2 separate regions of the Homo sapiens genome follow, and region 2 is linked to region 1. Evidence: fine-mapped expression QTL. Tissue or cell type: cerebellum. Region 1 holds a variant in brackets; the other region holds the start of a gene. All regions are shown on one strand. Distances are between the middles of the regions.

Region 1 (2,755 bases):
TGCCTCCAAAGCCCATGATGTGTGCCAGGAGTTGCCCCTGCTCTCTGTGCCTGTTAGGGCCTCTACCCTGGATTTGCAAAGCCCATCACTTTATTTCAGGACTTCATTTCCTTCAAAACACATCATGCAGGTGTGGCTTTTTCAAATTATGCCTGAGCTGTTTATCTATGAATGCCAAAAGCAGCAGCTCTGCAAAGGACCATGACAGCCCCCTCAACGCAGGCCCAGGGAGCCCCCCTCTGCCAAAGGCTGGCTGCTGCACCCAGCAGGTCATTCTGCGGTCACCTGCTAGCTGTGAGAAGTCATGTGCCGGGAGAGGTGGTGGCGCTCCCGGAAGTGCTCCTGGCACACAGGGCAGGCAAGGGCCTCTTCTCTCCGCTTCTGAGAATGTGGGTCAGGCCCCGCATGCTCCTTTTTGTGGTGGGATCGCATGTGAAAGACCAGGTCGGACGTTAGGCGAAAGGACAGGTTGCACTTTGCACACCAGTTCTGGGTGGACAAGCCCAGGGAGGTGAGGGTGGGTGGCAGGAGGGCCCACGAAGTGGTGGAGGATGATGAGGGTGGGGGCACCTGGGCCTGGGTATGCTCCAGCCACAGTGTAGGGGCACCCAGAAAAGTGCTACAGAGTGGAGCATTCTGTGGCAATGCTTGCAAGTTCCACAAATCACCAACCAAAAGCTTGGGAGTTGAAAGTCGACCCCAACAAGCGAGGTCTGTAGTGTTGAGGAGTCCAGACAGCTCCCCCAGGGCATCTGCAGATTCCCCTGCAGGGAAGACTGAGGTTAGCTCAGGCCTCTCTGCTGGTCGCTTGGTTGGTTTGCTAAAGGCGCTTCTTTGCTCACTTCGTGCTCCGCTGGGCCACACAGAGAAGACTTTGCTGCCAGCTGGGCCTCTGGGGATGTTCTGGGTCAGCTGTGGGGCACCAGGTTGGCCTGTGGGGTCATCGTGCTCCCTCTCCTGGGCCTGAGCATCCACCTGCCGGTCCTTCATCCTCGGCAGCTCCGTGAAGGCGCTCTGCCTCTGCTCTCCACGTGTCTTCGGGGGCAGCGGCTTGCCAGGTCGGGGCTTGCCTGGGGCTACCAACAGTGCCAGCTCCGCACTGCCCACATCCCGGCCCGCCCTGCCCACAGCAGCCTCAGGGCCCAGGCGGTTCGTCTTCTCGAGCAGCACTGGCTTGCAGCCCCGGCCCAGCTCAGGTTCGCTAAGTCGCCATCTGTTTTCAGCCGATGGGCTCAACGGGGCTCCCTT[C/T]CCAGCTGCCATGGTGATCACCAGGGCCGGGGCCACAGATAAGCAAGGTGGCCACTCTGGCATTCATCAGTCTTTGGGGGTTTGGGGTTCTGGAGGGCTTGGCCCAGCAAGGAGCCATGAGATATGGAAGCTCCCCATGACACTGGGCTGGACACACTCGGCCACAGGGCCCTGCAGAGAGAGGAAGCGACAGGCAGTGAGATGGGCATTCATCACTCAGGCACAGTGCATCATGAGCTGGCATCAGACAGGACCCTGATGCTCAGGCCTCCTCCGCTGTCTGTGGGATGGGTGTGCTGACTGCACCACCTCTCAGGAGACAAGGAGCATGGATGGCACCATCCTCCAGGGCCCACCTCCCTGAGGCAGAGTAGGGACTGAGGTCTCTGCTGAAAATGCCCATGGGCAGCAGCCTCTACAGCTCAGTAGAGAGAAACGTAGGATTCCCCTGTCAAAAGTGGTTCCTGGGGATTAACCAGGCATGAAATGGAGAGTCTGCAGGGGAAGGGAAAGAGCCTGCTCTGGGGGCTGCATTAGGGCCTTGGGGGCCCTTCAGAAGTTTCTGGGTCATCTGTCAACAAGTAGACTCCATCATGAGGAAGCCATGCACCCTCAGCCCCTGCTCCATGCTCGAGCTACCTCTGGCCCTGGCTGAGTGCTGAGGGCACAGGGAGGCCGCAGCATGAGGGTCGCAGTGTTGGAGGACCATGGACTTCATGGTCTTTGCTCCTCATGCAGCCCTCTCTGTCCCGACCCTAATTTCAACCCATTGCTCCTCGGTCTACCAGACCTGCCTCCCAGCCTGGTGGCCCCTTTGTCCACATCACATGCCCTGTCAGCTTCTGCGCGGTCTCTGATTTTCTCAGAGCCATGCTTCTTGTGAGAGTCAAGTGTCCCCACTCTTCCCCCAACTCCCAAGTACATGTGGGCAGCTTCATTCCCATCGTACCTGTGAACTCATTCCAAAATGCACCTCAGGCACAGTCTCCCCTTGAGGCTTGCCCAGTGCTCTCAGACACAGACAACACTCCCTCCTCCATGCCCTCACTGTCCTGGGCACCAAAGGCCTGCATGCACCACGTGCAACATTATATTTACTTGTTTGTGGTCTGCTAGAAGGCAAACTCTAAGAACCCAAATATGTCAATTCACCTTCACATCTGTAGTACTTAATCAAGCCTGCAACAGGACAGGAGCTCAGGAAGCCTTTGCTGAATGAATGAATGAATGAATGAATGACAGGACAGCAACTGTTAGAAAGAAGTCAACTTCCTCCTCCCAAAGAGTGTGGAGACCTGCTCCTGCACAGAGAGGAGAATGTGAGCCCTCCATATTCCCATAGGGCCAAGGGAGGAGACATCCGCATGGTGAGAAGGGCGAGGAGCCTACTGCAGCCTGCCTCTGAGCTTCTCCACCTCCTGCTCCTTCCCTGTGCTCCTTGCTGGGCACTTGGCCCCTGCCCAGTCCATAGCTCAGGCGCAGGTGGGGAAACCACTAGCTGTAGCAG
Region 2 (2,755 bases), 20 kb before region 1:
GTCCCTGAGACCACCTTCTCCAGCTGCCTACTGAGGCACACAGGGGCGCCTGCCTGCTGCCCGCTCAGCCAAGGCGGTGTTGCTGGAGCCAGCTTGGGACAGCTCTCCCAACGCTCTGCCCTGGCCTTGCGACCACTCTCTGGGCCGTAGTTGTCTGTCTGTTAAGTGAGGAAAGTGCCCATCTCCAGAGGCATTCAGCGGCAAAGCAGGGCTTCCAGGTTCCGACCCCATAGCAGGACTTCTTGGATTTCTACAGCCAGTCAGTTGCAAGCAGCACCCACATTATTTCTATAAGAAGTGGCAGGAGCTGGGATCTGAAGAGTTCAGCAGTCTACCTTTCCCTGTTTCTTGTGCTTTATGCAGTCAGGAGGAATGATCTGGATTCCATGTGAAGCCTGGGACCACGGAGACCCAAGACTTCCTGCTTGATTCTCCCTGCGAACTGCAGGCTGTGGGCTGAGCCTTCAAGAAGCAGGAGTCCCCTCTAGCCATTAACTCTCAGAGCTAACCTCATTTGAATGGGAACACTAGTCCTGTGATGTCTGGAAGGTGGGCGCCTCTACACTCCACACCCTACATGGTGGTCCAGACACATCATTCCCAGCATTAGAAAGCTGTAGGGGGACCCGTTCTGTTCCCTGGAGGCATTAAAGGGACATAGAAATAAATCTCAAGCTCTGAGGCTGATGCCAGCCTCAGACTCAGCCTCTGCACTGTATGGGCCAATTGTAGCCCCAAGGACTTCTTCTTGCTGCACCCCCTATCTGTCCACACCTAAAACGATGGGCTTCTATTAGTTACAGAACTCTCTGGCCTGTTTTGTTTTGCTTTGCTTTGTTTTGTTTTGTTTTTTTGTTTTTTTGTTTTTTAGCTATGAAACAGAGGTAATATCTAATACAGATAACTTACCAGTAATGAGTGCTTCCTACTTACTGGGTACTGGGAAGAAGTGCTTTACACATATTTTCTCATTTAATCTACACAATAAGTAATTAAGACATTTCCCTGAGGCCACGGGAGAGACAGTGGCAGAACAGTTCTCCAAGGAGGACTTGCAAGTTAATAACTGGACTTTGCAAGGCTCTGGTGGAAACTGTCAGCTTGTAAAGGATGGAGCACAGTGTCTGGCATGTAGCAGGAACTAAAATAATGGCAGTGATTAATGTTATGATATGCAGACACAACACAGCAAGATAAGATGCAATGTACCTTCTGGGTCAAACCACCCTGGCCACTCCTCCCCGATACCCAGGGTTGATGTGCTTGAATTAGACAGGATTAAAGGCTTACTGGAGCTGGAAGCCTTGCCCCAACTCAGGAGTTTAGCCCCAGACCTTCTGTCCACCAGCTGAGAAGGACAAGGGCGGAAGGCAGCTGCACAGAGCAGGGCCACGGCCTTGCACACAGTCCAGGGAGCTTTTGTGCAGGAGCCAGGCCTCCCCCTGGGTCCCCATGATGAGAGAATGGGTTCTGCTCATGTCCGTGCTGCTCTGTGGCCTGGCTGGCCCCACACACCTGTTCCAGCCAAGCCTGGTGCTGGACATGGCCAAGGTCCTCTTGGATAACTACTGCTTCCCGGAGAACCTGCTGGGCATGCAGGAAGCCATCCAGCAGGCCATCAAGAGCCATGAGATTCTGAGCATCTCAGACCCGCAGACGCTGGCCAGTGTGCTGACAGCCGGGGTGCAGAGCTCCCTGAACGATCCTCGCCTGGTCATCTCCTATGAGCCCAGCACCCCCGAGCCTCCCCCACAAGTCCCAGCACTCACCAGCCTCTCAGAAGAGGAACTGCTTGCCTGGCTGCAAAGGGGCCTCCGCCATGAGGTTCTGGAGGGTAATGTGGGCTACCTGCGGGTGGACAGCGTCCCGGGCCAGGAGGTGCTGAGCATGATGGGGGAGTTCCTGGTGGCCCACGTGTGGGGGAATCTCATGGGCACCTCCGCCTTAGTGCTGGATCTCCGGCACTGCACAGGAGGCCAGGTCTCTGGCATTCCCTACATCATCTCCTACCTGCACCCAGGGAACACCATCCTGCACGTGGACACTATCTACAACCGCCCCTCCAACACCACCACGGAGATCTGGACCTTGCCCCAGGTCCTGGGAGAAAGGTACGGTGCCGACAAGGATGTGGTGGTCCTCACCAGCAGCCAGACCAGGGGCGTGGCCGAGGACATCGCGCACATCCTTAAGCAGATGCGCAGGGCCATCGTGGTGGGCGAGCGGACTGGGGGAGGGGCCCTGGACCTCCGGAAGCTGAGGATAGGCGAGTCTGACTTCTTCTTCACGGTGCCCGTGTCCAGGTCCCTGGGGCCCCTTGGTGGAGGCAGCCAGACGTGGGAGGGCAGCGGGGTGCTGCCCTGTGTGGGGACTCCGGCCGAGCAGGCCCTGGAGAAAGCCCTGGCCATCCTCACTCTGCGCAGCGCCCTTCCAGGGGTAGTCCACTGCCTCCAGGAGGTCCTGAAGGACTACTACACGCTGGTGGACCGTGTGCCCACCCTGCTGCAGCACTTGGCCAGCATGGACTTCTCCACGGTGGTCTCCGAGGAAGATCTGGTCACCAAGCTCAATGCCGGCCTGCAGGCTGCGTCTGAGGATCCCAGGCTCCTGGTGCGAGCCATCGGGCCCACAGAAACTCCTTCTTGGCCCGCGCCCGACGCTGCAGCCGAAGACTCACCAGGGGTGGCCCCAGAGTTGCCTGAGGACGAGGCTATCCGGCAAGCACTGGTGGACTCTGTGTTCCAGGTGTCGGTGC

Direction of the effects. Alleles are on the strand shown, and positions count from the first base shown. SD is a standard deviation of normalised expression in the study named.
For the expression in cerebellum of the gene that starts at base 1,331 in region 2, C is the high allele of the variant in region 1 and T is the other (moderate effect, 0.60 SD a copy in GTEx).

What was found. PIP is the estimated chance that this variant, and not a neighbour inherited with it, causes the effect.
Region 2: RBP3 starts here. The variant in region 1 is fine-mapped to the expression of RBP3 in cerebellum (GTEx, PIP above 0.99). The same link has a PIP of 0.9 or more in cerebellar hemisphere.

The regions. Positions count from the first base shown.
Region 1 is chr10:47,367,519-47,370,273 of GRCh38, forward strand. It overlaps ZNF488 (zinc finger protein 488), which reads right to left. Exons shown (of 2, transcript NM_153034.4): 2 at 1-1,419. The coding sequence starts at 1,311. The coding sequence ends at 289. Among named protein-coding and RNA genes, the nearest start is that of ZNF488, 15 kb to the right of the region's middle. The variant C/T (reference allele first, on the strand shown) is at 1,249.
Region 2 is chr10:47,347,033-47,349,787 of GRCh38, forward strand. It overlaps RBP3 (retinol binding protein 3), which reads left to right and starts at 1,331. Exons shown (of 4, transcript NM_002900.3): 1 at 1,331-2,755. The coding sequence starts at 1,453.